Homo sapiens: one gene and its partner. The protein of the gene in region 1 purifies or fractionates together with the protein of each later gene. This does not show direct contact. Each region holds a gene or a part of one and is shown on either strand. Other genes may lie near its edges. The genes, in order: OVCA2 and MYH11.

Region 1 (15,980 bases):
GGCGGCTGAGTCCACCGAGGCTCGAGCGCGCGCGTCCTGCGGAGTGCGTCTGGCGGCCAGCCTGAGGCCGTCCTGTCCTCCCGGCCAAGGTATCCCAGCCAGGGCTCGGCGAGAGAAGGGGTCGGGCTGGGACTCGGGTTCTTTCGATTTCGGTGAGAGGGAAGCCACTGGGACCAGGAGGCTTGGAAGGAGGTTTGTCTCCTGGGGCCTGAAGACAGTAGAGGGAGGAAAGTTTTCTGAGATACTCCACAGCCCCGTTCTTCCAGGAACCCCTAGCTGAAGTGGGCATTGGGCGAAGAGTAAACTCTTGAATCTTTCCCTCTGAGCTAGGAGGATAAGAAGGGTCCCCAACCCTCTGGAAGCCAATGAGCTTGTAAAGTTAACCTGGTCCGCGAAGCGTCTGAACAGATCAGCCTGCTCACCTCAGCCTATCTCTAGGTGCTGGATTCCAATCTGAGACAGTTTCTCAAATTAGCCCTAAAGAGGAGTGAATACCACAGGGGCTGAAGTCCTCTGGTGCGGATGAAGTGTGAACAAGGATCTCTAAAAATATTATTGTATATGTCGCCTGCCTCTGCCAACATCACCCACTACAGGGGATGTCTATTGAATATCAGGTGTGAGACTTCCCCAGAGATAGTGTTGGGAATGGTTAATGCAACCCAGCCCACGACACGTTAATCCAATTTTTCTTAACGTCTCACGCCCCACCCCCTCCTTCACTCCCCACCCGGCTCCTTTGTGAAGTACTTCTAAGACACTCGTGCCGGTTTCCCAGTTAATCAACACCCACATGCTAGCCATCCCACCTCCCCAGGGCCCCGAGGTCTTGCAGATTAAAACGCACTTGCTTCTGGGTTCCAGGGGATGTCAGTGGGTGGACTGCAGTGGACTGCTGGGTGTAGTGCTCTGGGAAGCCAGAGGTCCAACCTGGCATTATCAGCAACTGGTGGTTAAGGGGCCATATTCTGTTTCTGAGCTTTCTGTAAAACGGGATAATAATCTCTTCTCCTCGGCAGGTGCACTGTGAGGATTAAATAGGATCATGTAAGTAAAAATCCAAAAACAGCAGAATGTTATTTTGATCTTAAGTATTCTGTTAGGCTACTACATGTTTGTGAAGGGGTGGTGTTGGGAGGGGACCCCAGCTCTGTGCACTTAGGCAGAATGAACGGGATGTGGGGGGTACACCTTGAGCTTTAGGCTATATATATTTATTGTCTAATATATATATAATCTATATTATATATATGTTATACATACATATACTTTTATTTTTTTTCTTCTGAGACAGTCTCGCTCTGTCGCCCAGGCTGGAGTGCAGTGGCACTATCTCGGCTCACTGCAACCTCCGCCTCCCGGGTTCACTCTGGGCCTGGGGCTGTTGAGAGGTTCCTTGCTAAGGGGGTTCTCTCTCCTAAGAGCTCTAGGAATCCAAGGTGGAATCAGAGGTGGAAAACAGAAATGGTTGGGATATTCTGAGAAGAGGTCAGAATGTGGTCAGAGGGGAAAGAACCAGAGGATTGACCGTACGTCAGGGTTGTTTAGCATCTTAGAAATCATTTAGGGCAGGGCACAGTGGCTCACGCCTGTAATCCCAGCACTTTGGGAGGCATAGGTGGGAGGATCTCTTGAGCCCAGGAGTTCGAGACCAGCCTGGGCAATACAATGCGACTCCCATCTCTACAAAAAAGAAAGAAAGGAAAGAAGAAAGGAAAGAAAAGAAAGAAAATTAGTTGTGCACACCTGTAGTCCCAGCTACTTGGGAAGTTGAGGTGGGAGGATTGCTTGAGGCTGGGAGGTTGAGGCTGCAGTGAGCTGTGATTGCACCACTGTACTCCAGCCTGGATGACAGAGTGAGACCCTGTCTCAAAAAAAAAAAATCATTATTTAGGGCTGGGAGACATGGCTCATGCCTGTAATCACACCATTTTGCGGGGCGGGGCAGAGGCTGGAGGACTGCTTGAGCCCAGAAATTCGAGACCAGCCTGGGCAACATAGTGAGACCCCATGTCTTAAAAAAAAAAAAGCCAGTGTGATAGGTGGCACCTGTAGTCTCAGCTAAGCTACTCAGGAGGCTGAAGCGGGAGGGTCACTTGAGCCGAAGAGGTCGAGGCTGCAGTGAGCCATGATCCTGCACCTGGTGACAGAGGTAGACCCTGTCTTAATAATAATCCAGCCTGGCCAATATGGTCAGACTCCGTCTCTACTAATAACACAAAAAATTAGCCAGCCATGGTGGTGCTTGCCAGTAATTCCAGCTGCTTGGGAGGCTGAGGCACTAGAATCACTTGAACCCAGGAGACGGAGGTGCAGTGAGCCGTGATCGTGCCACTGAACTCCAGCCTGGGTGGCTGAGTGACACTCCGTCTCAAATAATAATAATAATAATGGTACCTACCTCATGAAGTTGTGAGATTAAACATGAAGTTGTAAGGTTTAAGCTATATATATTTATTGCCTAATATATATAAAATATATATGTGTTATATATATATAATTTTATTTGTTTTTTTCTTCTGAGATGGAGTCTTGCTCTGTTGCCCAGGCTGAAGTGCAGTAGCATGATCTCGGCTCACTGCAACGTCCGCCTCCCAGGTTCAAGCAATTCTCCTGTCTCAGCCTCCTGAGTAGTTAGGACTACAGGTGTGTGCCACCACCCCCAGCCAATTTTTGTAGTTTGTTTTTTTTTCTTTTTTTTTGGAGACAGGGTCTAGCTCTGTCTCCCAGGCTGGAATACAGTGGCACAATCACAGCTTACTGCAGCCTCAAAACTCCTGGGCTCAAGTGATCCTCCCACCTGAGCCTCCCGAGTAGCTGGGACCACAGGTGCATGCCACCACACCCAGCTAACTTTTAAATTATTTGTAGAGAGGGGGTCTCACTATGTTTCCCAGGCTGGTTCTGAACTCCTGGGCTCAATTGATCCTCATGCCTTAGCCTCCCAAAGTGCTGGGATTATAGGCATGAGCAATCGCACCTGGCCCTAAATTAGGCCGCATTAAAGCTCTTGCTTATTACAATGTCTGGTATACAGTTATTACTCAATAAATGCTCTTCTGGCCGGGTGCAGTGGCTCACACCTGTAATCCCAACACTTTGGGAGGCTGAGGTGGGCGAATCACTTGAGATCAGGAGTTCAAGACCAGCCTGGCCAACATGGCGAAACCCTGTCTCTACTGAAAATGCAAAAATTAGCTGGGAGTGGTGATGCACACCTGTAATCCCAGCTACTCTGGAGGCTGAGGCAGGCGGATCGCTCGAACTCAGGAGGCGGAGGTCGCAGAGAGCGGAGACTGTACCACTGCACTCCAGCCTGGGTGACAGAGCGAGACTCCGTCTCAAATAAGTAAGTAAATAAATAAATGCTATTCCTATTTCTATCCTTCAGACCTAATTTTCCTTTGCTATAAATTGAAAATGTTTAAGCAGTGATTGTTCTGGGGAGCTTGCTCCCCTCCCTGGTGGGTTGCAAGAGAGTCACACTAGGGGTTTTTCAGATAACACACCCTCACCCGAGGCTTTCATTCAACCCCTAAGGCAGTGGCTTTTCAAATCCCTGCTTGGGAATGATGGGGGCAATTTGCCAAAATGCAGATTCCTGGGTCCCAGTGATTCTGACTCAGTACATCTGGAGTTGGCCCCAGAATTCAAGTTGGTTTTTTGAGATGGAGTCTCACTCTGTCACCCAGGCTGGAGTGCAGTGGCACAATTTCGGCTCACTGCAACCTCCGCCTCCTGGGTTCAAGCAATTCTCCTGCCTCAGCCTACCAAGTAGCTAGGATTACAGGTGCATGCCACCACGCCCAGCTACTTTTTTTTTTTTTTTTTTTTGAGACAGTTTCGCTCTCGTTGCCCAGGTTGGAGTGCAATAGCGTGATCTCGGCTTACCGCAACCTTTGCCTCCCAGGTTCAAGCAATTCTCCTGCTTCAGCCTTCCAAGTAGCTGGGATTACAGGCATGCGCCACCATGGTTGGCTAATTTTGTATTTTTAGTAGAGACAGAGTTTCTCTCTGTTGGTCTGGCTGGCCTCAAATTCCCAACCTCAGGTGATCTGCCCGCCTCCGCCTCCCAAAGTGCTGGGATTACAGGCATGAGCCACCACGCAGGGCCAGAATTCAGGTTTTAACCAATGTTCTGGATGTAAATGGTACACAGAATCTGCGTATTGGGGGTGGGGAGGGGCACAACCCCCTAAGAGTCTCTCTTGCTCCTGGACGGCATGATGGGAAGTGACCTGTTCCACTTGTCGAGAACTAGTGGACCCCATGTTTCCCTCTAGCTTGGACACTATGGTTCTCAGGAGGAATCCTCACCCCCGGCCAGGAGCCCTTCTCCTCCACCTACTACTGCTGGGCTCTACCTCCCCCACTTTTAATTTTAAGCCTTGGCTCAAAATTCACTCCCCAATATTTCTCCCCTTCTCTCTACTTTCGTCCTCAATAATCCCAAGCAGCTGGGGTGTACAAGTCGTTTTCACCTCTTGGGACCGTGCTAAAGGGGGCAGCCTATGATTACCATGAGGGTATGGGAGCCCTGAACTGCAAATCTATCATTTCCAGAGAAGCCAGAAATCTGAAATTTTCTGTGCAATTTCTGAAACTTTAAATCAGAATTTTTTCTAAAATTCAATGGGTCAGATACCACAGTCTGTGTAATCAATCCATTCCAAAGTCTCCTCCTTTTGCTAAAGGAGAAGATTCCTTAAAACAAGGCAGAAGCCAACTGAAGCAAGGGAGAACCACCTCCCACCCCTCCCCACACACACTTTCCACACCCAGTAACTAGGTCTCTGGGCGGATAATTCTGTTTTGTTTTGTTTTTTTTAATTTTGGACAGCTAATCTCTGTAGTGAGGAACCCAGAACTTTCGGTAATGTAAGGGATATTAGTCTGGTTGTCAGAAAAATGGGCTGGAGTATTTGTGCTGTGTCCCTGACCATAATTCCTGCTCAGTTGCTTAGCTCCCTGGCAACTATGTCTGAGGGCTAAACAGGAGTTGGTGTGATCTTCCAGAAAAAGAACAGGCTTCTTGTCTTGCAGAGGCAGGAAGTCAGAAAACAAGAGTGTGTGTGTGTGTGTCAGGGGGTGGGGGGTGTCAGGTGGCACTGGAAATGGGAGGGAACTCATTAAGAGTGGGCAATTGGCCAGGTGAGGTGGCTCACGCCTGTTAATTCCAGCACTTTGGGAGGCCAGGACAGGTGGATTGCTTGAGCTCGCAAGTTGGAGACCATCCGCACAACATGGTGAGACCCCTTCTCTACAACAAATACAAAAATTAGCCAGGCATGGTGATTTGCGCCTGCAGCCCCAGCTGCTTGGGAGGCTGAGGTGGGAGGATGGATGGCTTGAGCCCGGGAGGTGGAGGCTGTCAAGATTGTGCCACTGCACTCCAGCCTGGGTGATAGAGTCAGACCTTGTCTTTAAAAGTAAAGAAAACAAAAAAAGAGTGGGCAATCCTAGGTAGGTGCAGTGGCTCAGGCCTATAATCCTAGCACTTTGGGAGGCTGAGGCAGGTGGATTGTTTGAGCTAAAGAGTTTTGAGACCAGCCTGGGCAACGTGGCAAAACCCTATCTCTACAAAAAAATATAGAAATTAGCCAGGCGTGGTGGCGCATGCCTGTAACGCCACCTACTCAGGAGGCTGAGACAGAACTGCTTGAACCCAGGAGGCTGAGGTTGCAGTGAGCCAGGATCTTGGCCACTGCTCTCCAGCCTGGGTGACAGAGTGAGCCTGTCTCAAAAAAAAAAAAAAAAAGAGTGAGCAATCCTCAAAGTATCCAAGAACAACTACACGCCCCAAGGGGAAAACCAGCTGGATTGCTTAGGCCTTGGCTGTAGTCACTAAAGAATGGCATCAATCTCAGAAACCCTCAAGATGGGGTCAATTTAGGAAGAAGCTGTTTATTCTGTACTGTCTTTGGCCTCCACCTAAGGTCTGGCATCGACCCACCCTTCAGGCTCATAGTTCAGCGAGGTTAGAGCACTTAGGGAGAAGCAGGTAACACATCCAGGGTTTGAGAGAAGACCAGCACACAACTCTCAGTGATCTGGATAGAGGAAGACTAAATTACTGTGGTTCAGGCAGCCTTGCCAGGTGATGTCTTCCCAAAACTTCTCAGATGTATATTCCTCCCTGATTGTGCCACCTAGGCCTCCTTCCCTTCAGTTTGGGACTTAAAACTTCCACCAATAACGTGAGTATGTGCACCCATGCAGCAGCCTGTCCGAGGACTCACAACTGGAGACACCTCCCTGCTTGGCGCTGCCCAGAAAACTATGTAGATGGCCAAGAAACCGACTTCCATTATAAAATGTTTTTCTGTGTGTACCAGGAAAAAGATGCTCAAAATCCAAATCACCACTTTATTATGTGGCAGTCACCATGGTGCCAGCCTCTGCCTTCCCCATGTCACCCTCCTAATCCAGGGCTCTCCAACCATATTCATGTTTGCGTTTTCACAAGTCAATGTCCATTAAGGCCTTGTGCTCCCCTTTTCTTCAGTACAGGGCAGGGCCCTTATAATTTGGGTCTCAAGAATTGATAGTTGTCTCTTAACTGGTTCTGGTGAGGCGCACTCACAGCAGTGAGTGGAGGGTCCTGGGAGGGCATGGATGACGGAGGCTGCCCCTAGAGGAGCTGGATGTAGGAGCAGAGACATTTCTTGATCTTTCACTCTGCAAACTGGTCCAAGAACTTGAGGTAGGCCTGACGCTGGGGTGCAGCTGCTGGAATGAAGTGGCCACCAGAGTGGGTGAGGGTGATGGCTCCGGGAAATTGGCTGGCCAGTTGCACACTCTCCTGAGAGGGGATGACTTTGTCAGTGTCCCCAAAAACATGGAGCGAAGGCAATGACAAGGGCCTTTGCAGGATGGATTCCTTGAACCCAATGCCCCGGGGACAGAAACCAGACACCAAGAGGATAAACCGTGGCAAGGGGAAGCGGGGATCGCCTGCCTGGCCCAGGGCACACACAAGGGCTGCTAGCGCAGCCCCTTGGCTGAAACCAAGAAGGCCGTCAAAAGGCCCCAGCCTGTTCAGTGCCTGTGCCACCATCCCCAGTGATTCCTCCAGGCCCCTGCAGACGGCGGGCTCTTCCAATGCGGAGAAAACGTCGGCCTCCTGCTCTGAAAACCACCAGCCTCGAGGCTGCTCCTCCGGAGGGCAGGACCCTACAGCGATATGAGGAAAAAGGATGGGATTAGGGCATGGGAGGCTCCAGGAAGGAAAGAAATGAGAAAGGGCAGGAGGGTTCGAGATGACAGAGAGAAAAAGGGAATCGAGGCAAAAGTCTGGGGGAAATGAGAGGGGGGAAATGAGTGGATTGGCCTGAACAGGAGACAGCGGAGGAAGACGGTGAAGGCGGAAGCCTGGGAGGACAGGCTGCAGTTTGAGCAAAGAGGGTATGGGTCGCGAGAAATGAAGGGTGTGGACTGGGTGGGAGGAATGCGGGTGGACGCAGGGTGGGGGATGCTGAAGGGTGTCGAGGGGGACGAAACAAGATGGAGGAAACTGAGTGCGTTTCCGGAGCGGGGCTTGTCTCACCGAAGTCTGATCTGGCGCCCTCGGGGCCCGGGGGGTCGGGGACCGGGTGCGGGCCGCTGAGGCACACGAGCTCGGCGCGACCCCGCAGCGCCTTCCTCAGCGCCCCGGTCTTCTCACGGAAGCCCCGCTCGCTCTGCCGGAAGCCCGCCAGGCACAGGACCCGCAGGGGTCGCTGCGCGGCCATTATGCCCGGCAAGGAGCGACGGAAGCACCGGAAGCGGTCTTTCCCCGAGCGGAAGCACAATGCACGGGGCGGAACCGAACGTCAGCACCGCCCCGAGGGCGGGCCTCGGAGCGCCAAGGCGTTCCCATGACAACGGCAAAAGGCGGGGCGCACCCAGAGCGGGGGCTGATACCTGAGGCCCGGGAGCGCGTCAAGGAGCCAGCGGCGCCACCTTCTCGTCCCTGCAGCTGCAGTCCTCGCAAGCCACGGCCGAAGGGGGACGCGCGGACCCCTCCTGCACCTGAGGTCGCAGACTTTGGTTAGGGTCTCGCTCCTGCGACCCTGCGTTTCCCTCCGCTCCGCTCCTGTGCGTTTCCCGTCGCGGTCGCAGGGCGGCGGCCAGTGCCCAGGCGCGGTCTCTCCTCCCTCCTGGAAGCCCCCGCCTACCTTCCCCCGCGCGGGCCGGCCCGGGGCGTGGGGACGGCGGTCCTGGCCGTGGTTCACCGTCCAGGGCCCCAAGGAGCTGCCAGCGTAGAAGTCCATCGGGTAGGGCTGCTGCCAGGAAATGTCCCTCAGAGCCACGGCCGCCTAGGGGAGGGGAGGGAGGGACAATAACATCTGCCAGTGTTTTTCTGCCCCTGGATTACTGAATTCAGTCCTCACGACGGCCTGTGAAGGGCACACTGTCCCCTGCCACAGAAGGGAACTGTGTGGTTCAGGGCCTTGCCTAAGGCTACACAGCTAGGAAGTGACTCCGCTGGAGAAATCGAGACAGACTCCGGAATCTACGAACATAACGAAGTGCTGCCCACCCACCCCACTCCACTCCAGACCTCACCTTTGAGAACCACGTCCAAAGCCCACTCTCTCCCAGAGCTTGGTGTTACCTCATAGGGTGTCAGCAGCGGCTTGGGGAAGGCTGTGCCCCAGTCAATGGAGAGACGTGGACATGCCACCTGCACCCACCTGGGAAGGGAAGCCAGGTCAGACCCTAGGAAGGGCCTCCTCGTCGCCCAGGCAGCATGCTGAAGAACATGACAGTGCCCCCAGCACACCCATTCATTAACAGGCTTTATGAATCCTAAAGTAAAGACAGTGACCCACTGCTGTTTGGAATACTGTATTGTTGCGTGTTTTCTCCTGTTTCCTCTGCCGACAATGAGCTTTCCAGGGCAGCTCACTGGTGATAGTATCCCCAGAACCACATTTAGTACCTGGTACAGGGCAGGTGTCAGCCACCGCTCAAACTCATCTCACAAGGACAAATGTGATGTTGCCATTGCCTCTGAGCCCCAAAGTCCCAAAGCAGGTATGACCCAGTTAGCCCTCCCAGGGAGGTCTCTGTAAACAGTAAAATTCCATGACCATGGAAGCAATTCCTGTTGGCTCCAGCCTTCAAGACGAGCTGGGCAAGACCCAGCTTCTAAGCTTCTTTAGCCAGTCATAGCCAGGCAGATACTCACACATCCACCTCAGGAAGTAGGCTAAGCTTGCTGGGGAAGATCTCAGAGAGCAGCAGCCTCACAAAGGAAAGGCCCAAGGCTCGGAGTCGAGATTCCAGGTGCTGTTGGGAGAGGGAGGCAGGGTGGGGGTCACCTGGTCAAGCAGCCAAAGCTGAACCTGTGGCCTACTGGTTTTCCCAGCTGTGTTCCCAGTCACTTCCCTCCTCCAGAGGCTGTCCTGAGCCCACTGACCTCCAGGATCTTAGGACTGCCCTGGCGGCCCAAAGTGCCCAGAATAAGGCCCCAGGACTTAGCTGAGCGGGCAGTGGCTATGGCTTCTTGGCGAGCAGCCTGCATGCGCTGGTGGTCATAGTGTTCTCTGGATAGGACTTTGCTATATGGGTCATACCTGGAAAAGAAGCAGTCAGGGTCACTGTGGCAGCCACTGTCAGGACCAGTATTATGCACACAGCTCCTGACTCAGCCCCGTGGGCTCCTGAACCTTTAGGCCCCACGCAGGTAATTAAGAACAGAGGCAAGAGCGGGGACTGTCATTAGGAAGACCTGTCCCACAGCTGGAGCAGACAAGAGTGGGCGGCTTTAAGATCTCCGTGTAAACCCCAGGAGACGGGTAGGCAACAGCAGCCCTGGGGCTAATGCCCAGATCCAGGGCCCAAGTGCCTCAGACCCTTAGGGCTGGTGGCTTAGTGGCCAGGAAATGGGGATGCAACCAATTGAGGACCTCAGTGGCAGGGAATCTCACCCCTCACCAGCTGGTCAGCCCAGCCCGGCCCAGCCCATACCGGTAAGCGGGGACATTGGGGTTGGCAATCATGACAGACTCCAGATGGAAGCGGCCATCTCCAAGATACCTGCAGGGGTGGAAAGGAGGCTAAGTGTGGTTTAGGGCAGCAGAAGAGGCACTCGCTGGCTTAGAAGTCCACAGGGCTGGCCGGGCGCGGTGGCTCACGCCTGTAATCCCAGCACTTTGGGAGACCGAGGCGGGCGGATCATGAGGTCAGGAGATCGAGACCATCCTGGCTAACACAGTGAAACCCCGTCTCTACTAAAAATACAAAAACTTAGCTGGGTGTGGTGACGGGCGCCTGTAGTCCCAGCTACTCGGGAGGCTGAGGCAGGAGAATGGCGTGAACCCGGGAGGCGTAGCTTGCAGTGAGCTGAGATCGCGCCACTGCACTCCAGCCTGGGTGACAGAGTGAGACTCCGTCTCAAAAAGAAAAAAAAAAAAAAAGAAGTCCACAGGGCTGCCAGGTGCAGTGGCTCATGCCTGTAATCCCAACACTTTGGGAGGCCGAGGCGGGTGGATCACGAGGTCAGGAGATCAAGACCATCCTGGCTAACACGGTGAAACCCTGTCTCTACTAAAAATACAAAAACTTAGCTGGGCGTGGTGGCGGGCACCTGTAGTCCCAGCTACTGGGGAGGCTGAAGCAGGATAATCACTTGAACCCGGGAGGCAGAGGCTGCAGTGAGCCGAGATCGCACCTCTGCACTCCAGCCTGGGCGACAGAACAAGACTCTGTCTCAAAAAAAAAAAAAAGTCCAGAGGACTGAGTTCACAGCTGGCTGTGCTGTGCCTCTGTGTAAACTGGGACAAGCCTTCACTTCACCTCTTGGAGCCTTGGTTTTCTCACGTGTGAAATAAGGAGTTTGAATTGGATGACTCTACGGTCCCTCTATTTACATAATGCAGAATCTAAGAACCGTCCCACCCCAAGCTTCTGAGGAAGAGTGAAGGAGCAGCCGGCCGTGGTGAGGCCACCTGGGGTTCTAGAGATCCTCATTTGGAAGTTGGGGAACAGATTCTCCTTCACAAGCTCAATACAGATGTGGACAGTAGTGTTCAAGGAGTCATCTACGCCAGCAGTAACCAATATTTTTGGCACTGGGAACAGGTTTTGTGGAAGACACGGGTGGGATTGGGGGATGGTTTCAGGATGAAACTGTCTCACCTCAGATCATCAGGCATTAGGATCTCATAAAGATCATGCAACCTAGATCCCTCGCATGTACAGGTCACGATAGGGTTTGAGCTCCTACAAGAATCTAATGCCGCGGCGGATCTGACAGGAGGCGGAGCTCAGGTGGTCACGCTGGCTGGCCCACCCCTCACCTTCTACTGTGCGGCAGGTTTCCTAACAGGACATGGGACCAGGGGTTGGGGACCTCTGATCTATGCTGTACATGAGGTTGCAGGGCATACAATGGCTACTTTCTGCCCAAACTAGCTCTTGGGGCCAGTTACTGAGTTATAACAAAAGCTACCGGATTTTCATTTTGTTTTTTTGAGGCAGGGTCTTACTCTGTCACCCAGGTTGAGTGACTCGGTCATGGCTCGCTGCAGCCTCAACCTCCCAGGCTCAAGCGATCCTCTCACCTAAGCCTCCTGAGGAGCTGGGACTACAGGCATGGACACTGTACCCAGCTAATTCTTTTTTTTTTTTTTTTTTTTTTTTTTGGAGAGAACAGGGTTTCATTATATTCCCCAAGCTGGTCTCAAACTCCTGGACATATGCAATTCTCCTGCCTTGGCCTCCCAAAGTGTTGAGATTACAGGCGTGAGCCACTGTGCCCGGCCAACAGCTACTGTTTATTGGACTTGTGCCTTCTGTGTACCAGGCATAGACTAAGTACCTGCTGTGAATTAGTTCACGCAGTCCTATCTCCTAATCCTCCCAGATACGTATAGTATACCTGTTTTACAGAAGGTAACAACTGAGGCTCAGGGATGTTAAGAAACTCGCCTAGTATTAAACAGCTAGGAAGCAGTGTGTCTGAGGCTCAACCCAGGCTGTACCAAGTGTGCCCCCAGACATGCTGTCCCTGACAGTAGCTTCCCAGCCCATGAAGATTACAGAGCGTGGAAGATAACCTGCCTGTGGCAGCTCCTTCTCTCCCTCTTGGAGACCACACTTCATTCTGATGAATGGCTAACACTCAGGGTGTCCCTCCCTCCAACATACACTTTGAAGACCCCAAGGGTAGAGACTGAGTGACGTGGGCACAGGGGGAATGCCACTCAGTGCTGCTCGGGGAGCAGGGCTGCCAGATCTGGGCTGGGGAAGGCCCTGATGTGGGCCTGTCTAGGGACAGGGGTGTCAGGCCTGTGGAAACAGCCTCCAAAGCCCCAGAGGTGGGACTGAGTCAGGGAGCGACCCTCCCTCCCTGCCATTAGTACGGAACGGGACTCCCTTCCCTAGTCCCAGTCGGGGGAGCCGTCGGCTCTCAGGCTGGCTGCATTCACACAACATTAAGCATTTCCATTACCTAAAATAATTAGGCGGCAGGAGACACGCTGCTTCTGCTTGTTAGCTGTCCGGATGGTAAATTAATGGGGCTGCAGCCTGGGCGTGCCCATCCATCTTCTCCAATTATATTCCCACCATTTCCAGCCCACCCTCAACCCCCATCAGGCCCTCTGATTCCTGCCCCCACCCTGCACAGCCTTCTGGATGATGGACTGGGCAGTGGAGAAAGCGACAGTAAACCTGAGGTCTGCTCCCTGTTTGGTCCCTACCTTGCAGTGTGACCTCGGGCTCACAGGTAAGGAGCATTAGATTTGGTTTCTTTCCTGGATGATGAACCTCAGGCTCCCTCCCAGGGTACACGCATGTCTCTAGGACTTACTTGGCCCCCATTTTTAACTTACACAACGGCCTCCACCTCTTTGGACAGTCGGGGGGATGTGCAGCCCAGGATCTCTCCAGGGGACAGGGGCTTGCACTGTGGGACACTCACACGATACTCGGCTTTCAGCTCCTGGGCGGCTGCCTGTAGGAATGACGAGGGAAGTGAAGCCAGCGGCTGGGGCAGGAGAGCCAGGGCTGAGAAACAGCCTGGAGCACCTGGGGATCCCGCAACAGCTGGAGAGTGGCCGCTGTCCACCCTGCAGGAGGCCGAGGATCCTCGTTCCACCCACCTGCAAGGTCGACACAAACTGAATGGTGCTGACCAGGGCAAGGGCAGTGGCTGGGGGAAAGGTGAGGCGGAGAGAGTCCAGGAGGTGTGTAGTGTCTATCCGGATGTCCACAAAGACGTACAGCACCCGGAAGTCTTGGGCCGAGGTGTCCATGGGAACTGTGGGAGGGAGGAGTTCAGGGGCTGTTTGGGAAGGCAGGAGCAGCAGAGGGCCCGGCCAGGCTCAGGTCTCTGAGCAGCCAGGCGCAGTGGCTTCAGCCTGGGGGTAAAAGGACAGGGTAGGAGAAGAGGGGGGTCACAGATCCCCTAGAAGCTCCTTCTCAATCAGACTTCTCTGTCACCCGGCCGGGGCCCAGCCTGCTCTACAACCAACAGCCTTTCAAACACCTGCATCTGGGACAGAGCACCGTTGCCAAGGCAACCAAATCCAAAGGAAAGATCTACCTGCAGAGCGGGAAGGCAGAGGCCACCCCAGAAACCAGGAGGGACCTTGTGTCTCCAAGCAGGACAAGAAGGCACTGCCATGGGGAAGATGAATGTGCAGCCTGCCTCCCTGCCAGCCCCGCCACCGTCCAGGTGTCCTGGCCCCACCATACTCAGGCAACTGTGGCCGTAGTGCACCAAGAAGTCAGCTCCCAGGGCCCTCGCTGTGAAGTCATCCACACAGCAAGCCCCGTAGGTCACGTCACCCATCACCATCACTTCGGCCTCCGTGAACCTGCGGGCACAGGGGCGGGGAACGGTGGGACAGGGACACAGGGACTGAGGTAGGAGAGACCCAACCCTGGGAGGGTGTCTCAGGGCCCAGCTCCTCTCTCCCTACCTCTCCCAGTTCCTCGGGATGGCAGCTGCCACTTCTGCCAACAAAGATTAGGAGGGGCACAGCTGCCGCCTGCCCCAGCCTGGCAGCCGCTCCTGGAACTGTTGCTGCGTGAGGACCCTCATTCCTCTACCCAGGCTCAGGCTGCAGGAGGGACCCCAACCCTCACTCCGGCACACGTGGGGTCAAAACACAGACGCCCCATGCCCTGACTCACCCACCCAGAGCCGTGAGCACGCACACACACCCAAAGGTCCTCACTCCCGCGCTGAGTGCTGTGGTGGGCATGGGCGTGGCTGTATGAATACACACAGCCTCCCTCTTGCCGGGACCCCCACTCCCTCCCCACCACAGGCAGGGCCCCCACCCCCTCCCCACCACAGGCAGGGCCCCCTCACCCGGACCCCCACTACCTCCCCACCACAGGCAGGGCCCTCTCGTCCGGACCCCCACTACCTCCCCACCGCAGGCAGGGCCCTTGGTGCCCAGGATGGGGGGACCCAGGCACAGCTCCCCCATAGCACATGGCACCACCTACACGCCTCCTGCATCAGGAAGAGGAGGCTCTGGCCAGAACACTGCCGTGGGAACTGCTGCCAGGCCTGAATCACTGGGGGAGGGGGTGGGTGGGGAAGACCTTGTACCCCTGAACTCACCCTAGGAATGGAGGAGAACCCCCTCTTCCTTGAAAGAGACTCACACTTGGGGCGTGGAGCCTGGCTCAGTGACTGGGGTCCCCCCATCCTTCCCCTGGGGGTGTGGCAGTGGAAGAGTTGAGCTCCTGCTAGTCACCCCCTCCTCCACCCCCTTCCCCAAATCAGGCTGTGCCCAGAAGCAGATTATTCACCTCCTTAGAATGCAGCCCAGGCGTCTAAGTCAGCCACAGCACTTAATTTTTTATAGATTAAAATGTATGCAAATTGGCCTGAGCCCCAGAGAGCATCCCCAAGGGGCAAGACGGTGGGAGCAGGGAAGTGAGTCTGTGGCAACAAGATGGGGCAGCAGGGGAGGGAGGGCAGCAGCAGGGGAGGGGGATGGGGCAGCAGCAGGGGAGGGGGATGGGGCAGCAGGGGAGTGGGGGAGGAGGGGAGGGGGCAGCAGGGGAGGGGGGAGCAGGGGAGGGGGAAGGGGGAGTAGGGGAGGGGAATGGGGCAGCAGGGGAGGGGATGGGGAAACTGGGGAGGGGGATGGGGAGCAGGGGAGGGGAGGGGGAGCAGGGGAGGGGGAAGGGGAGGGGAGAGAGGGGGAGCAGGGGAGGGGAAGGGGGGAGAAGAGAGGTTTGGGGGAGCAGGGGAGGGAGGGTGGCAGCAGGGGAGGGGGATGGGGCAGCAGGGGATGGGGGAGCAGGGGAGGGGGATGGGGGAGAAGGGGAGGGGGAGGGAGGAGCAGGGGAGGGCGATGGGGCAGCAGGGGAGTGGGAGGTTCCCAGCATGAGATGACCTCCCCTTTCTTCGTTCCCCTCCCCTGTTCCTGTGCTGGTTCCAGATGGCTGAGCTCTCACCCTCCCCACCAAGGATGGCTCATTGTATTGCAGAAACTTAGAGTGACAGGGGTAGGATGTAGAGGAACTGAATACCTTCTCCCAGGCACCTCCCACTCCAAACCCATCCTTGCCCTACTTCCCCAAATGTGCCCGAGGAACAGGTGCCCCCCACCGCCCCCGACCGGCAGACCTCCCACTGATCACTCAGCGCATTTCAGGGGCAGCTTGGAGAATTCTTAGGGTCCTCCCCAGGTCCTACCACCTGCTCTGGGTCTAGCTTTGAAGACACTGGGATTGATTTCTTTCTCTGTCCCAAATGTTTAGGGGAGGGGGGATTTGCAGGGACAAGCAGGGCTCTCAGCAAGCTGGGAGATTTGTTTTGGGTTTTCCCTGAGTGTGTGTATGGTTGTGGGAGGGAAAGGGGGAAGGTGGAGGTTCAGAAGGAAAAAATGCCCGCCACCAGGGCTTTACCCACCCGGGTAATGAGCATAGGGGGTGGGGGAAGCCTGGCTCACCCTCCTCTCCAGTGCCCCAAGCCTCACCTTTCCAAGATATCCACAATGGTACAGGCAAAGAGGAGGAGGCCT
Region 2 (16,290 bases), on another chromosome or scaffold:
AGCAGGAGAATTGCCTGAACCCAGGAGGCGGGGGTTGCAGTGAGCCGAGATCCCGCCAGTGCACTCCAGCCTGGGCGACAGAGTGAGACTTTGTCTCAAAAAAAAAAGCGTGTTGGGCAAAAGTAGGACGCGGTGAGGGGCTTCTTTCCAGGTTGTAGAGAAGGGGAAAGAGAAGCGCAAGTATCCCGAGAGGACGAGACCCACCACTCAGTCTTCCCATAGTCCCTGGGAGGTGCTGGACGTTGACCGGTCAGCCCTGGATGCCCGTCCTCCCTCCAAGACATGACTAAGAGCTGCCAGACCTCAGATGGGGACAGGGAGTCTCTTGGTGGTAACAAAGCAGTGAAGCGGGGACCCTAGGGGACATGGGCTCCCAGAAACCTTAGCCCAGCCTAAGACCCCAGAACTGGGGCCAAACCGCACGAGGGCCTGGGGAGCCCAGGTAGGAGCTGATGTTAAACGTTTCCCCCACAAGCAGATGGAACCAGGTCTCTACATCAGAATTCAAGTTGTTAGAGGCAAAGGCCTCTGTTTCCCTGCACCTGAGATGGGCAGAGGTTTGCACCTCTACCTGCTTTGTGCGGGTCAGTAATGGACATGCCGTCTGCTGGTGGTCTTAATAACTGCGTCTTCCCAAAGAGGCCTGGCTGGGAATGGGCTTGGCTTCTAGCTCCTGTTCACGTCTAATGAACCCCAAGCATGGGGAGGGTCAGTGATTCTGTCTGGGGCCTCACTCTTCCAACCATAATTTTTTTTTTTTTTTTTTGAAACTGAGTCTCACTCTGTTGCCCAGGCTGGGGTGCAGTGGCACAATCTTGGCTCACTGCAACCTTTACCTCCTGGGTTCAAGTGATTTTCATGTCTCAGCCTCCCAAGTAGCTGGGATTACAGGCGACCGCCACCACGTCCAGCTAATTTTTGTATTTTTAGTAGAGACGGGGTTTTGCCATGTTGGCCAGACTGGTCTCAAACTCCTGACCTCAGGTGATCTGCCTGCCTCGGGCTCCCAAAGTGCTGGGATTACAGGCGTGAGCCACTGCACCCAGCCTAATTTTATGTATTTTTAGTAGAGATGGGGTTTCACTATGTTGGTCAGGCTAGTCTTGAACTCCTGACTTGGTGATCCGCCTATCTCAGCCTCCCAAAGTGCTGGGATTATAAGCATGAGCCACCGCGCCCGGCCTTTGGGGGCAGTTTCTAATGGTTTAGCACTATCCCTTTGGTGCTGCCCTCATGAGATCTGGTTGTTTAAAAGTGTCTGGCAGCTCCCCATTCTCTCTCTTCTGCCTGCTCTGGTCATGTAAAACATGCCTGCCTCCCCGTTGCCTTCCACCATGATGGTAAGTTTCCTGAGGCCTCCCCAGAAGCAGAAGCTGCTATGCTTTCTGTACAGCCTGCAGAACCGTGAGCCAATTAAACCTCTCTTCTTTAGAAATTACCCAATCTCAGGGTGGTGCAGTGGCTCACACCTGTCATCTCAGCACTTTGGGAGGCCAAGGCAGGTGGATCACCTGAGGTCAGGAGTTCGAGATCAGCCTGGCCAACATGGCAAAACCCCATCTCTACTAAAAAAAAAAAAAAAAAAAAAAATTAGCCGGGCATGGTGGTGTGTGCCTGTAGTCCCAGCTACTTGGGAGGCTGAGGCAGGAGAATCATTTGAACCCAGGAGGTGGAGGTTGCAGTGAGCCAAGATCACGCCACTGAACTCCAGCCTGAGTGACAGAGTAAGACTCCACTGCTCAAAAAATAAACAAATAATCCAATCTTGGGTATTTCTGTAGAGCAGTGCAACAACGGACCAATACACTAGTGATAGAACCAAATGCAAATTCCCCAAAATTTTTAGGCAATGCTGCACCCACTTAATCTAGCAGAACCAAAAGCTTCCACTGAAGGGGATGTGGAGGAGCTGCAACGCTGAGGGTAATGTAACTCAGGCTTTCAGGAAAACAATCTGGCCGAAGGTCGCAAGCTAAAAAACTTACCCTGGGGAATGAAGCACAGGCACTACCCCAAAGGAGAGAAGAGCACCCAAGATTCAGCATTCGGTACTGCTATTTACCAGCTCCCACTCCCATACACCGCAAAGAGTTCCAACAACGGGAGAGTGATTTGACCTAGTCATTCTCAAATTATGCCGGAGAGAGCTGTTCTGCCATTGAAATCAAATAATGACAAGTTTCCTCCAGTCTTTTTTTTTTTTACAAAAGAAAAATCGCTATGTTGCCCAGGCGATCTGAAAGTCCTGGGCTCAAGCAATCCTCCCTCCTTGGCCTCCCAAAGTGTTAGGATTACGGGAGGCATGAGCCGCCATGCCTGGCCTTCCTCCAGTCTGCAGAGAAATTAAAGTGGATAGAATGATCCCAGTTTTAAGTTTCATTTAAATCTCCCCGAAAGTGTTGTTACACCTTTGCTTATCCCTGAAGGGCAGTATATTGATAGGCCCCACCCATCCTATAGGCCTTCAGTCCTGTAGAGGCCAGAAAGTGGGGTCTAGGACCAGACTGTTTGGGTGCAAATCATGGCTCTGTCACTTACCAGCAGTGTGACCTTGGGTAAGTCTCTTCACCTCTAGGCACCTAGGACCTCAGTTTCTTTGCTTGTAAAATGAGTTTAATAGTACACGTCTCACAGGGTGGTTGTGAAGATTAATTGACATACTGTATGAGAAGCATTTCTATTCATTCTTTTTTTTTTTTCTTTTTTTGAGATGGCGGCTCACTCTGTCGCCCAGACTGGAGTGCAGTAGCACGATCTGAGCTCACTGCAACCTCTTCCTCCTGGGTCCAAGTGATTGTCCTGCCTCAGCCTCCCGAGTAGCTAAGATTACAGGCACATGCCACCACACCCAGCTAATTCTTTATATTTTTGGTAGAGATGGGGTTTCACCATGTTGGCCAGGCTGGTCTCGAACTCCTGAGCTCAAGTGATTTGCCCGCCTTGCCTCCCAAATTGCTGGGATTACAGACATGGTGAGCCACCGTGCCCAGCCTATTTTTATTGTTTGATTAAGGTCTCACTGTGTCGTCCAGGCTAGAGTGCAGTGGCATGACAGGGCTCACTGCAGCCTCAACCTCCCAGGCTCAAACGATCCTCCCACCTCAGCCTCCCAAATAGCTGGGACCACAGGAATGCACTACCAGGCCTGGCCAATATTTTATTTTATTTTATTTTTTTGAGATGGAATCCTGCTCTGTTGCTCAGGCTGGAGTGCAATGGCATGATCTCTGCTCACTGCAACCTCTGCCTCCTGGGTTCAAGTGATTCTCCTGCCTCAGCCTCCCGAGTAGCTGGGATTACAGGCATGCACCACCGCGCCCGGCTAATTTTTTGTATTTGTAGTAGAGATAGGGTTTCGCCATGTTGGCCAGGCTGGTCTCGAACTCCTGACCTCAGGTGATCCACCCAGTTTGGCCTCCCAAAGTGCTGGGATTACAGGCTTGAGCCACCACGCCTGGCCTACTTTTTTAAAATTTTAGTAGAAACAAGGTCTCACTATGTTGCCCAGGCTGGTCTCCAACTCCTGAGCTCAAGCGATCCTCCCGCCTCAGCCTCCCCAAGTACTGGGATTACAGGCGTGAGCCACCTCACCCAGCCTGTATGGGAAGCATTTTGTAAATAAATATAAGCTGCTATCATCATCATTAGAATCTTATGTAACTTGTTTTTTGTCTTTATGCAGACCCTGACCTGTAGTAATTTGAGGCTGCTGATGTCACTCTTATGTGTCATCACCAAAAAGCATCACCAAAAAGCATTACCCTCTTGAACTGCTCAAGCTGCTCTGTGAGCTCCTCCACCGCCTGTGCGTGTTTCTGCCTCATCTCCTGGACCTGAGCCTCATGGGACCGCGTCTCTTCATCCAGGGCCTTCTTCAGCACCGTCACCTCCTGCTCCCTCTTGGCCCTTGGTGGGAGGAACACAGTGAATGGCAGTTGGGTGGAGACAGAGGGTCATCTCAGTGCCGTGCAAAAGAATGAGAGCTCTTCCAGGACCCAGAGCTGCAGTCCTCATCACCACCCCTCTCTAGCTGTGTGACCTTGGGTCATTCACCTAACATCTCTGGACCTAAAATTTCCTCAGCTGCAAAATGTGGAGCATATCACCTGCCTAGGACATCTGTAATGACTGGCAAACAAATACACAAAGTAATAGAATTGAAAGGATGTCTGTGAACTGCAAAATTTTGCTTAAATATTAATGTTGGCTCTTATTTAATGAGCAGTTACTATATGCCAGGCCCTGAGCTAAGTTTTTTATATACATCATCTAATCCTCAGAGCAACCCAAAGAGGCAGGTGTGTTATTATTTCCATTTTACAAATGAGGAAACTAAGGCTAAGAGAGGGTAAGCAGTTTTACCCATGGTGTCACAGCCATTGTGTGATGGAGCCAGAATTAGAAGCTAAACCTTGACCTTGAGTCCATGGTTTTGTTTGTTTGTTTTTGAGATGGAGTTTCACTCCTGTTGCCCAGGCTGGAGTGCGACAGCGCAATCTTGGCCCCCTGCAACCTCCACCTCCCGGGTTCAAGCGATTCTCCTGCCTCGGCCTCCTAAGTAGCTGGGATTACAGGTGCCCACCACCACGCCCGGCTAATTTTATATTTTTAGTAGAGATGGGGTTTCAACATGTTGGTCAGGCTGGTTTCGAACTCCTGACCTCAGGTGATCCACCCGCCTCAGCCTCCCAAAGTGCTGGGATTACAGGTGTGAGCCACCGCACTCAGCCTGGTTTTTTGTTTTGTTTGTTTGTTTTTCTTATCGAGTCTTGCTCCGTCGTCCAGACTGGAGTACAGTGGAATGATGTCAGCTCACTGCAACCTCTGCCTCCCAGGTTCAAGGGATTCTCCTGCCTCAGTCTCCCAAGTAGCTGGGATTACCGACGCCCACCACCACGCCCGGCTAATTTTTGTCTTTTTAGTAGAGACAGGTTTTCATGATGTTGGCCAGGCTGGTCTCGAACTCCTGACCTCAGGTGATCTGTCTGCTTCAGCCTCCCAAAGTGCTGGGATTACAGGCATGAGCCACCATACCTGGCCCATGCACTGGGCTCTTCTGTATCAAAGGCCAAGCGGCAAGGGAGCAGAACGCTGTGCTCTATGTGCATGTGACACTGCACAAAACCCAAAGTGGGGGAAGTAAACCCCAGGGTATATGGTGTTGGCACAGCTAGCATAGCTATATGCTATGATACATGCTATGCCAACACCACAGATTGCATCAAAATACATTTATGTGTTTACTGAATGAATCAATGACCTAGTTTCACTAGAGTCAGGATTCGTGATCTGGCAGGCAGTTTGTTATTGTTTGTTCATTTGAAGTGAATCTTCAATTGAAAACCAATCTGATCAATTTTATTTTTAAAATTTAACACAAAAGTGATACACACACATACTTGGGAATTGGAGCTTGGGGACTGACTGATACACACACAGACAGGAAGGAATTTCTCAAGAATGTTAACTGGTGTGACTAAGGGTGATTTTTTTGTTTTTTGTTTTTTTTTGAGATGGAGTCTCACTCACTGTGTCACCCAGGCTGGAGTGCGATGGTGCGATCTCAGCTCACTGCAACCTCTGCCTCCCAGATTCAAGTGACTCTACTGCCTCAGCCTCCTGAGTAGCTGGGATTTACAGGCATGCGCCACCACGCCCAGGTAATTTTTGGATTTATAGTAGAGACAGGGTTTCACCATGTTGGCCAGGCTGGTCTTGAACTCCTGACCTCAAGTGATCCACCTGTCTTTGGCCTCCCAAAGTGCTGAGATTATAGGCGTGAGCCCGACCCTAAAGGTGATTTTTTTTTATGTCTGCTTTTCTATAGTTTTCAAATTGTTCTCTGAGTATATCCAAGCTTACCAATGAGGATGGTTTTGAATGCAGCCTGACACAGAGTCATAAACTTTCTTAAAACAGTATGAGATGTTTTTTCCAATTTGTAAAATTTTTTTAGTTGATCAGCTATTATTAGTGTTAGTGTATCTTATGTGTGGCCCAAGACAAATCTTTTTCTTCCAATGTGGCCAAGGGAAGCCAAAAGATTGTACATCCCTGGTATATACTACTCTTCTGATGAGAAATAAGATGATGAGGGTCGGGTGCAGTGGCTCACACATGTAATACCAGCAGTTTGGGAGGCGGAAGTGGGTGGATCACTTGAGGCCAGGAGTTCAAGTCCAGCCTGGGCAACATGGCAAAACTCCATCTCTACTAAAAACAAAAAATTAGCCGGGTGTGGTGGCACATACCTGTAATCCCAGCTACTCAGGAGGCTGAGGCATGAGAATCGCTTAAATCTCAGAGGTGGAGGTTGCAGTGAGCCAAGATGGCACAACTGCACTCCAGCCTAGGCAACAAAGCCAGACTGCCTCAAAAAAAAAAAAAAAAGAAAGAAAAAAAAGAAACAGCCAACCATGCTTCTATAAGTTAAAGCAAACCGCGGCCAGGAAGGTAAATGCACAGGGGCTGATGCACGATTTGCTTTGGGTTTGTCCCCTCTTCTGCCCCCATCCCATTGGTGCAGTGGGATAGCAGGATGGTGGGATTGATGGGCCCCTCACCTGAGCTCCTGCTGAGTGGCTGTGCTGTCCAGTGTGTCTTCCAGCTCTGTCTTTAGGGCCTCCAGCTCCTCGCCGAGGTCTCGCTTCTGCTTTTCAGCCTTGTTCCTGGCGGCCCGCTCTGAGTCCAGGTCCTCCTGGAGGTCTGAGATGTGGCCCTCCAGCTCCCGGATCTTCTTCAGGGCATTGTTCTTCTGAGCGATTTCATCGTCAAGCCTTCCAGGGAGAGACCCAGCAGAATGAACCCCCAGGTCCCTTGGTTTCCTCTCTTACAATGTGGCCAAAAACTTTTCTGGGACCAGACAGTTATGTTGCAGAGACATCAAACACCTTCTATCCATGTCCCCAGGTCTGCTTCTTGACATGCCAGACTATATGAGATTAACATAGGATGTGAGTGCCAAGGTCTGACATCAAAACAGGTTGTACATGTGCATGGGTGTGTGTACGTGTGTATGCACGTGTGTGCATGTGTGTGCAAGAATGCAAAGCATTGACCCCAGACTGGCAAGGTACCTGGTCACAGTAGGGACTGTGTAGATGCTTTCTGAATGTTGGACAGTTCTTCTTCCCTGGCAACTGTCTGTTCTTTCTGCATTTGCTCAGTGACTGAGTACCCGCCCCATGCACAGCATTTGGCCAGCCACTGCTTGCGGGGGATATTCAGACTGGGGCTCTGCATCTGGTGGAGGTGGTGACCAGAGATCAAGGTGGGCTGCAAGAAGCCCTGTTAAATGGCAGAATGCTGCAGGAGAGGCAAGCACTTTGATTTTACTGTACTTGTGAAAGGGCAGCAACAAGAGAGAAAGTGAAATAGTTGGGTTGGGGTGAGACTGCAGAGGGTGGATGGGCTCTGAGGGTGAGGCTAAGGAAACTGGATTTTCCCTAGTAAGCCAGTGAAGTTAGGTTTTTGTTTTGTTGTTATTATTGTTTTGAGACAGGGTCTTGCTCTGTTGCCCAGGCTGGAGTGCAGTGGCATGATCATAGCTCACTTTAGCCTCAACCTCCTGGGCTCAAGTGATCCTCCCATCTCAGCCTCCTGAGTAGCTGGGACTACAGGCACACACCACCATGCCTGGCTCATTTTTTAACTTTTTGTAGGGACAGGGTCTTGCTATGTTGCCCATGTTGGTCTCAAACTGCTGGCCTCAAGCAATCCCCCCACCTCGGCTTCCCAAAGTGCTGAGATTACAGGCGTGAGCCACTGCATCCAGCCAGCAAAGTTTTGTGAGCAGGTTCCTGCCCCAGAGAGATGCTTTCCCTTCATCACCGTAGCACTGTCAACATAGCACAAATTGGCCGACAAAAGAGCCAGGCCAGGGGATCAATCAGAAAGCTTTGAGGCTTAAATCCCAGCTCTGCCTCTTAGAAGCAATGACATTGCTCCTGTTGCGTTACCCCTAGGAGGCTCAGCTTCCTCCTCAAAGACACCGGCAGTACACCTGGCCAGGTGTCTGCAAAGGTATTGCTTGAAAAGAACTTAGCACCGAGTGAGCAGGTAAATAATCATTCATAGTGGCTGCTGCAGTATTAGCATTAGTGTAAATCCAGCTAAGAGCCAGGAAGAGGGAAAAACCAGAGGAAATGGGTGGGGGACATTTAGAAGGACTGGCAGAATCTGAAGGTTGCTGCTTGCTGTGGGTCGGCAGAAACAAAGGAGGAGATTGGTGTTCACAAAAAAGAGGGCCCTTAGAGGGAGGGGCTGGGGAAAGGAAGGTCATTCCCGCCTTAGACAGGGGTGTTTGAGATGACGGTGGAAATTGACTCATTGGGCAATCGGAAATTCAGAAGGGGGTCTAGATGAGAAAAGCCTGGATGTCGAAGAGGCAGCAGCAACACCATGGGAGTAGGTGAGATCAACTGCAAAGACATGATGTGTTTGCAGGGAAGAGAAGAAAGTCGAAGGTGAGGATCTGGGGGAGTGAACAGGGTCGAGAAGGCTTGTGGGAGGCCTGGCCTGGGAAACGAAGTTCATGCCAAGGGCCTGGGGCCGCCTTGACCAAGACAGCCACTGCGAATGAGCGAATGAGCAGGGGCCCAGGGGATACATGGACACACAGCAAATGCCCCTTGCCAGCCCCGCTACCTGGCCAGGGCCGCCTGCAGCTCCTCCTCCTTCTTGGCCAGCTGCATCTTGAGCTCTGCGATCTGCGCCTGGAGGTCAGCGATCTGCTCGTGGAAGTCGCTGGCATCACCCTCCAGCTTCCGTTTCAGCTTCTCCAGCTCCTGTCGGCTCTTCTCTTCCTTCTTTAGCCGCACTGCAAAAACCAAGGTGCTCTTCAGGAAGGGGAGGCCCCAGAGAGATGCCCGGAAATGAGCCTTCCTGCCCAGGCATTTTACCCGGAGGAGATGAACACATCCCCCAATCAGTAACCATCATAGTCACGGTCTGGACCATTATCTCCCGATGAACAGCACCTTATATTGTCATAATATTATTATTAGTTGAGATGGAGTTTTGCTCTTGTTGCCCAGGCTGGAGTGCAGTGGCGCAATCTCAGCTCACTGCAACCTCCGCCTCCCGGGTTCAAGCAATTCTCCTGCCTCAGCCTCCCGAGTAGCTGGGATTACAGGCGCCCGCCACCACGCCTGGCTAATTTTTGTATTTTGAGACAGGGTTTCACCATGTTGGCCAGGCTGGTCTCCAACTCTTGACCTCGTGATCCGCCCACCTCGGCCTCCCAAAGTGCTGGGATTACAGGCGAGAGCCACCGCACCCAGCCCTTTTATCATATTATTAGTGCATGTGATGACTAAGGGTGATTTCGAGAGGTGGCATAGAGTTAGTTGTCACTCATGGGATGATCTGCCATCCTCAAATTTCCTTTCTGATTTTCCTGCTTTTAAAAATACCCATTCAAGCCCAGGAATAGTGGCTCATGCCTATAATCCCAGCACTTTGGGAGGCCAAGGTGGGAGGACTGCTTGGGCCCAGGAGTTTGAGACTAGACTGAGCATCATAGTGAAACCCCATCTCTACAAAATAAAAAATAAAAAAAAATTAGCTGGGTGTGGTGATGCACGCCTGTAGTCTCAGCTGCTCAGGAGGCTGAGGCAGGAGGATCACTGGAGCTTAGGAGTTTCGGGCTGCAGTGAGCCATGATCGCACCACTGCACTGCAGCCTGGGCAACAGAGCAAGACCTCATCTCTAAAAAAAATAATAAAATAAAATAAAAATAAATCTCTTGGTAGCTGGTTTACCTTCCAGTTCTGAAATCATAGATTCATGCTTGTTTTTCAGCTTGGTAAGATTCTTGGCCTTTTCTTCCTCTTCTGCAAGATTTGTCGTTAAGTCACTAATCCTCTCCTCAAGGAGTTTTCGTTCCTTTTTGGGGAAAGAGAAAGAGATAGCTTTAGGATTTTTCTTTTCTCTAGAATCTATGTTTCACTTTTAGTGATTTCCATGTAAACAGTTGAAAGAAAAACCCACATTATAACAAAATACAACTAGAGTTTTAAATGGTAAAGAGAAGTCCCATAACAATTTCCAAAAACTGGCCATTTCTCATCTCGTGCCAGTTTGTCCCTCATATTGTATGGTCAGCTAAAGGTACCCTCCTTCCATTCCTGCCACTGGCCAGCTCTTCCCTGCCCCAGGGCCTTTGCACAGTGGGCCAACCAGCTGAGATGCTCTTCTACTCCCCTCTAACTGCTCCTTCATCTTTAAGTTTCTGCTTAAATGTCACCTCCTCCAGGAAGTCTTCTATGAATACCCTTCCTCTATCCCCCACTGCTGTATTCTTTTTTTTTTTTTGAGACAGAGTCTCACTCTGTCGCCCAGGGTGGAGTGCAGTGTTGCTATCTCAGCTCACTGCAACCTCTGCCTCCCACGTTCAAGTGATTCTCCTGCCTCAGCCTCCCGAGTAGCTGGGACTACAGGCGCCCGCCAACACACCCAACTAATTTTTTGTATTTTTAGTAGAGATGGGGTTTTACCGTGTTGGCCAGGCTGGTCTCCAACTCCTGACCTCAGGTAATCCACTTGCCTCAGCCTCCCAAAGTGCTGGGATTGCAGGCATGAGCCACCGCACCCGGCCTGCCGCACTCTTAAAATATGGTGAACGTTTCCTTCAGAGCCCTGATCACCATGGTAAATGACGATTATTTGCCATCTCACTACAGTATAAACCCCACAAGGGAAGGGTCCTCCTTCACCATGCATACCTGCATCTAACACAGAGCCTGGCTCACAGTAGGGGCCAAGCTGACATCCAGCTCAAAGAACTAAAAGCAGGTGGGGCTGGTTAGTGACTACTGACTACGGTGACCAGCTTGTCCTGGTTTTCTAAGGGCTTTTCTGCTTTGAGAACTGAAAGTCCCAAATCCCCAAAATCTCCCTGATCCTGGTAAGCCTGTTGTTTTTAATGCAGAAACTTGATTCCACTTTTTTTTTTTTTTGAAACAGAGTCACTCTGTCACCCAGGCTGCAGTGCAGTGGCACGATCTCAGCTCACTGCAACCTCTACCTCCCAGGTTCAAGTGATTCTCCTGCCTCAGCCTCCCAAGTGGCTGGGATTACAGACACTGGCCACCACACCTGGCTAATCTTTGTATTTTTAGTAGAGATGGAGTTTTACCCTGTTGGCCAGGCTAGTCTCAAACTCCTGGCCTCAAGTGATCCACATACCTTGGCCTCCCAAAGTGCTCGGATTATAGGCGTGAGCCACTGCACCCGGCCCCTACTCACTTTTGATAGTTTATTGTTCTGATCATCCATGACCAGGATCTCATCCTCCAGTTTCTTGATCTTGGCCTCAGCCGTGACCTTCTCAAGTTGCAGCTTCTGCCTGGCAGCTTCCTCCTCCTCCAGCTGTTCTTCAAGGTCCTTTGTTGTGGAGGGAAAAGAGTAACAGCTTTGGTTATAACAGATTTACTCTCGTGGTGATCTGGGGACTAATGAATACAGGGGCTAGGCCTGAAGATGCCCAGAACTCTGTAGCCTCCTAAAAGGAAGAAATAAAGGCCTGAGCGTGGTGGCTCACACCTGTAATCCCAGCACTTTTGGAGGCCGAGGTGGGTGGATCACTTGAGGTCAGGAATTCAAGACCAGCCTGGCCAACATGGTGAAACCCCGTCTCTACTAAAAATACAAAAAAAATTAGCCAGGCATGGTGGTGGGCTCCTGTAATCCCAGCTACTCGGGAGGCTGAGGCAGGAGAATCGCTTGAACCCGAGAGGCAGAGGTTGCAGTGAGCTGAGATCGCACCATCGCACCCCAGCCTAGGCAAGAGAGTGAGACTCTGTCTCAAAAAAAAAAAAAAAATAAAGACCTGGGTAAGCTGCTCTGCTTCATGGAACCTCAACCTCCTCATCTATAAAATGAGCACAGTAGGTACCATGGTGGTTTTAAAATCTATCCACAAGTTCTTTGCGACTCCAAAAAGGTGGAGCCTAATTCTCCTCCCCTTGAGTGGGGGTTAGATTTGCTTCTAACAACAACAACAAAAATCAGGAAGAAGTGATGGAATGTAACTTCAGAGATTAGGCTATAAAAGGCATTGCGGCTTCCTTTCTCCTCTCTCAGATCACTCCTTCTGGGGGAACTCTGCTGCCATATTGGAAGGACACTCAAGCAGCCCTGAGGGGAGAGGCCTTCATGATAAGGAACTGAGGCCTCCTCCAACAGCTGTGTGAATAAGCCAAGTAGAAGTGGGTCCTCCAGCCCCAGATGAGCCTTCAGATGACTGCAGCCTCAGCCAACACCTTGACTGCAACCTCAGGCCGGACCCTCAGCCAGAACCACTCACCTAAGCCACTCTCAAATTCCTGACTATGCAATACTTTTTATTTTTAGCTGCTGAGTTTGGCATGTTTTGTTATGTAGCAATAGCTAACAAATACAATTATCCTCCATTCAGGCTTGCTGTTAGGAGAAAAGGGGTTAGCACATGCAAGGCAGGGCAATAGAACAGAGTGGGCTCACTGTGTTCCAGTCCCAATCCCAGCTGTGTGGCCTTGATCAGATGACCAACCCTCTCCAAGCCCCCGTCTCATCATCTGTCCCAGCAGGGACACATATCCCTGGATGCACCTCCACAGGCCTGTGGTGAGGGTCAAGTGATTTGCTACCCACCACGGGCTGCCCCTGTGACACCTTACCAGCATCTGCTGGGCCATCTTCTTCCTTTCAGCCTGTAGCTGCTGGCCCCTGTCTTCCTCCTCCTCCAGGCGGGCCTCCATCTCATGCAGTATCTCCTCCAGCTCCTGCTTCTTGGCCGCCAGCCGCACCCGCATCTCCTCAGCCTCTGCATACAGCTCTGTCTCTGCCTGCAGCTGTTCCTGTAGCAGGTTCTTCTCCTCGGTCAGCTGCACGCAGGTGGTGGGGAGGAGGCGGGTGAGCCCCACGGGGCCAAGTCCTGTTCCCCAGCAACCCCAGCCATGCATCCATACAGGTACCTGCGAGTGCTTCTGTTCCAGCTCCTTAAGCTCATTCTCTGCCTTCTGCTGCCGCTCCTTGGTCTTCTGCAGTTCATCCTCCTTGGCCTGCATCTCCTCCTCCTGCCGTGTCACCTGCAGCAGTGGCTTCACCTGCACACACACGGTTAGCCCATCATTTGTTTTTGTGGCAAAGGGATATGTTGTCATAATAAATTCGATCAGTGGTTCCGAGCCAGGGACAATGTTGCCCCCACCGATCCCCACTAGGGGATATTGTCTGGAGACACTGCTGATTGTCACAGCTGGGGTGGGGGGTGCCTCTGGCATCCAGTGGGTAGAGGCCAGGGATACTGCTAAACACCCTACAGTGCACAGGACAGCCCCCACAACAGAATTAGTCACCCCAAAATATCAACAGTGGCAAGACTGAGGAGCTCTAAATCAGAGCACCAGAAAAGGTACAAAGTGAAAGGAAAAAGTCTCATCTTCCCCACTTTAGAACCATCCCAACAGAGAACTACTGCTGAAAAGTGATATTTCCTTCCAAGGACAAAAGGGAGAAAAAAAATCTTTCATATCCCACCCACCTCCCTATCAAAGTCATTATTAACATTGTTTACATTTCCTTCCTGGCTCTTTTTCTATGTTTAAAAAATAGACTTAAGACCATGCTGCCTAGTTGTAGAGGCTGCTTTTATTATTTAAAATTATATGATACAGACAGGAACAGTGATGCATGCCTGTAATCCCAGCATTTTGGGAGGCCGAGGCAAGCGCTTGAGCCCAGGAGTTTGGGACCAGCCTGGGCAACATCATGAGACCCCATCTCTACAAAAACAAGTAACCAGGCATGGTGGTGTGTGCCTGTAGTCCCAGCTAGTGAGGGGTCTGAGGCAGGAAGATCGCTTGAACCCTGCAGGCTGAGGCTGCAGTGAGCCACGATTGTGCCACTGCACTCCAGCCTGGGTGACACAGTGAGACCCTGTCTCCACAAATAAAATTTTTTTAAAAATTATAAGATATGTATTACCCCATGCTGTTACATCATTCTTACAACTTTACATAGCCATCTTTTAAGTTAATTTATTTATTTAGCGATGGTCTTGTTTTGTCACCCAGGCTGGAGTGCAGTGACACAATCATAGCTCACTGCAGCCTTGAACTCCTGGCCTCAAGCGATCCTCCCACCCCAGCTCCAGAGTAGCTGGGACTACAGGCACATGCCACAGTGTCCAACTAGACAGCTAGGTAGAAGTCTTTTTTTTTTTTTTTTTTAGCAGACCTATTCAGTAGCCAAAGCCATCATTTTAATAGCTGAAAACATTCCATTGATAGATGAACCATTATTGAACTCATCATTCAGCTAGGACTGGACACTGAAATTCTGCTATTGTAAATAAGGCCATAATGAATGCCCTTAACTCTTGATTTTCTTTTCTCTTTTTCAGGTGGAGTCTCGCCCTGTCACCCAGGCTGGAGTGCAGTGGCACGATCTCAGCTCACTGAAACCTCTGCCTCCTCGGTTCAAGTGATTCTCCTGCCTCAATCTCCTGAGTAGCTGGGATTACAGGTGCCCACCACCACACCTGGCTAATTTTTGTATTTTCAGTAGAGATAGGGTTTCGCCATGTTGGCCAGGCTGGTTTCGAACTCGTGAACCCAGGTGATCCTCCTGCCTTGGCCACCCAAAGTGCTGGGATTACAGGCATGAGCCACCACACCTGGCTAAGACGATTTTCTTAGGATAGTTTTTCAGAAGTTGGTTCAGTGGGGACGAACATTTCCAAAAAGCAGCATCTGCTGTCCTTCCCTGGGCTGCCTCCTAACTCTTTGTTTTCAAGCCCCTGCCTGGCACAAGGAAGCCCCTGCTATGTACTCCAGCAGCTTGCTTCATGCACTTATCACAGTTTGCCATTATGTATCTGTCTCTGTGATTATCTGTTTATTGTTTACTCCCCACCAATTCGGCTAGAATATTCATGGAGGTCAGGGACCATGGTGTGTGTTCACAGCTGCACCCCCAGCACCTAGCATGTGCCTGGGATACAGCAGGCACTCAATGTCTGTTTGCTTGGTGAAAAAGCCTTGCACCAGTGGATACACTCAAGGGCATATAAGGAGAAGCCTAGTCTATTGCAACAGAGCATGTCTTTGTGCCATGGGGACAATGCAACCAGTGCCACTACAGGAACCAGTTGAGTCCTCTGGAGGCCCTGACTCTGCCAGAAATAAAAAATAATATGCTATGGCCAGATGAGGTGGCTCATGCCTGTAATCCCAGCACTTTGGGAGCCTGAAGCAGGAGGGTTGCTTGAGGTCAGGAGTTCAAGACCAGCCTGGGTAACAGAGTGAGACTCCATTTCAAAAAATGCAAAAAGTAAAAAAAAAAAAACCTGCAGTATTGATACATGCAACAGTCTGGATGCTCTCTAATTCCATGTATAGAATATTTGTTTTATTTTTTTTTGAGACGGAGTCTCGCTCTGTCACCAGGCTGGAGTGCAGTACAGTGGCGCGATCTCAGCTCTCTGCAACCTCTGCCTCCCAGGTTCAAGTGATTCTCTTGCCTCAGCCTCCTGAGTAGCTGTGACTACAGGCGTTTGCCACCACGCCCAGCTAATTTTTGTACATTTAGTAGAGACAGGGTTTCACCATCTTGGCCAGGATGGTCTTGATTTCTTGACTTTGTGATCCACCCGCCTCGGCCTCCCAAAGTGCTGGGATTACAGCCGTGAGCCACCGTGCCTGGCCTTTTTTTTAAATAAAAAAAAAAAGAAAGAAGAGACAGAGTCTCAATCTTTCACCCAGGCTGGAGTGCAGGCATGATCTTGGCTCACTGCAACCTCTGTCTCCTGAGTTCAAGAGATTCTCCTGCCTTAGCCTCCTGAGTATCTGGGATTACAGGTGCCTGCCACCATACCCAGCTAATTTTTGTATTTTAAGTAGAGACAGGGTTTTGCCATGTTGGCCAGGCTGGTTTTGAACTCCTGACCGCAAGTGATCCGCCTGCCTCGGCCTCCCAAAGTGCTGGGATTACAGGCGTGAGCCGCCGCCCCCGGCAGCATTCTTGAACCATCAAAATTACAGAACTGGAGAACAGAGTGGTTTCCATGGCTACGGAGGAAGTGGGTGTGGCTATAAATGGGCCACACGAGGGATTCCAGTGCGGATGGAAATATTAATACTTTGTGTTAAGGTCCTGGCTATAGCCTATGTGCCAAAGGACAGGGCCTCCTCGGGCCAGAGAACCGCCAATGCTCAAGGTCTGAGTTCGAGCCCTCCATTCCACACCCACTTGCGACCACCTCCTGTCCCAAATGTGAAGGCTCCAGAGTGAAGAAGCAGGGCTGG

The links.
Region 2: the proteins of OVCA2 (region 1) and MYH11 purify together in Homo sapiens (affinity purification with mass spectrometry; 3 studies listed by BioGRID and IntAct, with this or other methods). This does not show direct contact.

The regions. Positions count from the first base shown.
Region 1 is NC_000017.11:2,033,798-2,049,777, reverse strand, and holds OVCA2 (esterase OVCA2), read right to left. Parts: upstream 7,757-15,980; 5' UTR 7,731-7,756; coding exon 7,547-7,730; intron 7,174-7,546; coding exon 6,674-7,173; 3' UTR 6,353-6,673; downstream 1-6,352. Other genes in the region: DPH1 (2-(3-amino-3-carboxypropyl)histidine synthase subunit 1), read right to left, coding at 7,921-8,010, 8,157-8,297, 8,597-8,675, 9,173-9,273, 9,404-9,560, 9,955-10,023, 12,822-12,943, 13,092-13,249 and 2 more. UniProt on the Homo sapiens protein: Exhibits ester hydrolase activity with a strong preference for long-chain alkyl ester substrates and high selectivity against a variety of short, branched, and substituted esters.
Region 2 is NC_000016.10:15,728,803-15,745,092, forward strand, and holds part of MYH11 (myosin-11), read right to left. Parts: intron 13,090-16,290; coding exon 12,958-13,089; intron 12,868-12,957; coding exon 12,661-12,867; intron 11,387-12,660; coding exon 11,249-11,386; intron 9,887-11,248; coding exon 9,763-9,886; intron 8,819-9,762; coding exon 8,647-8,818; intron 6,777-8,646; coding exon 6,564-6,776; intron 3,907-6,563; coding exon 3,762-3,906; intron 1-3,761. UniProt on the Homo sapiens protein: Muscle contraction.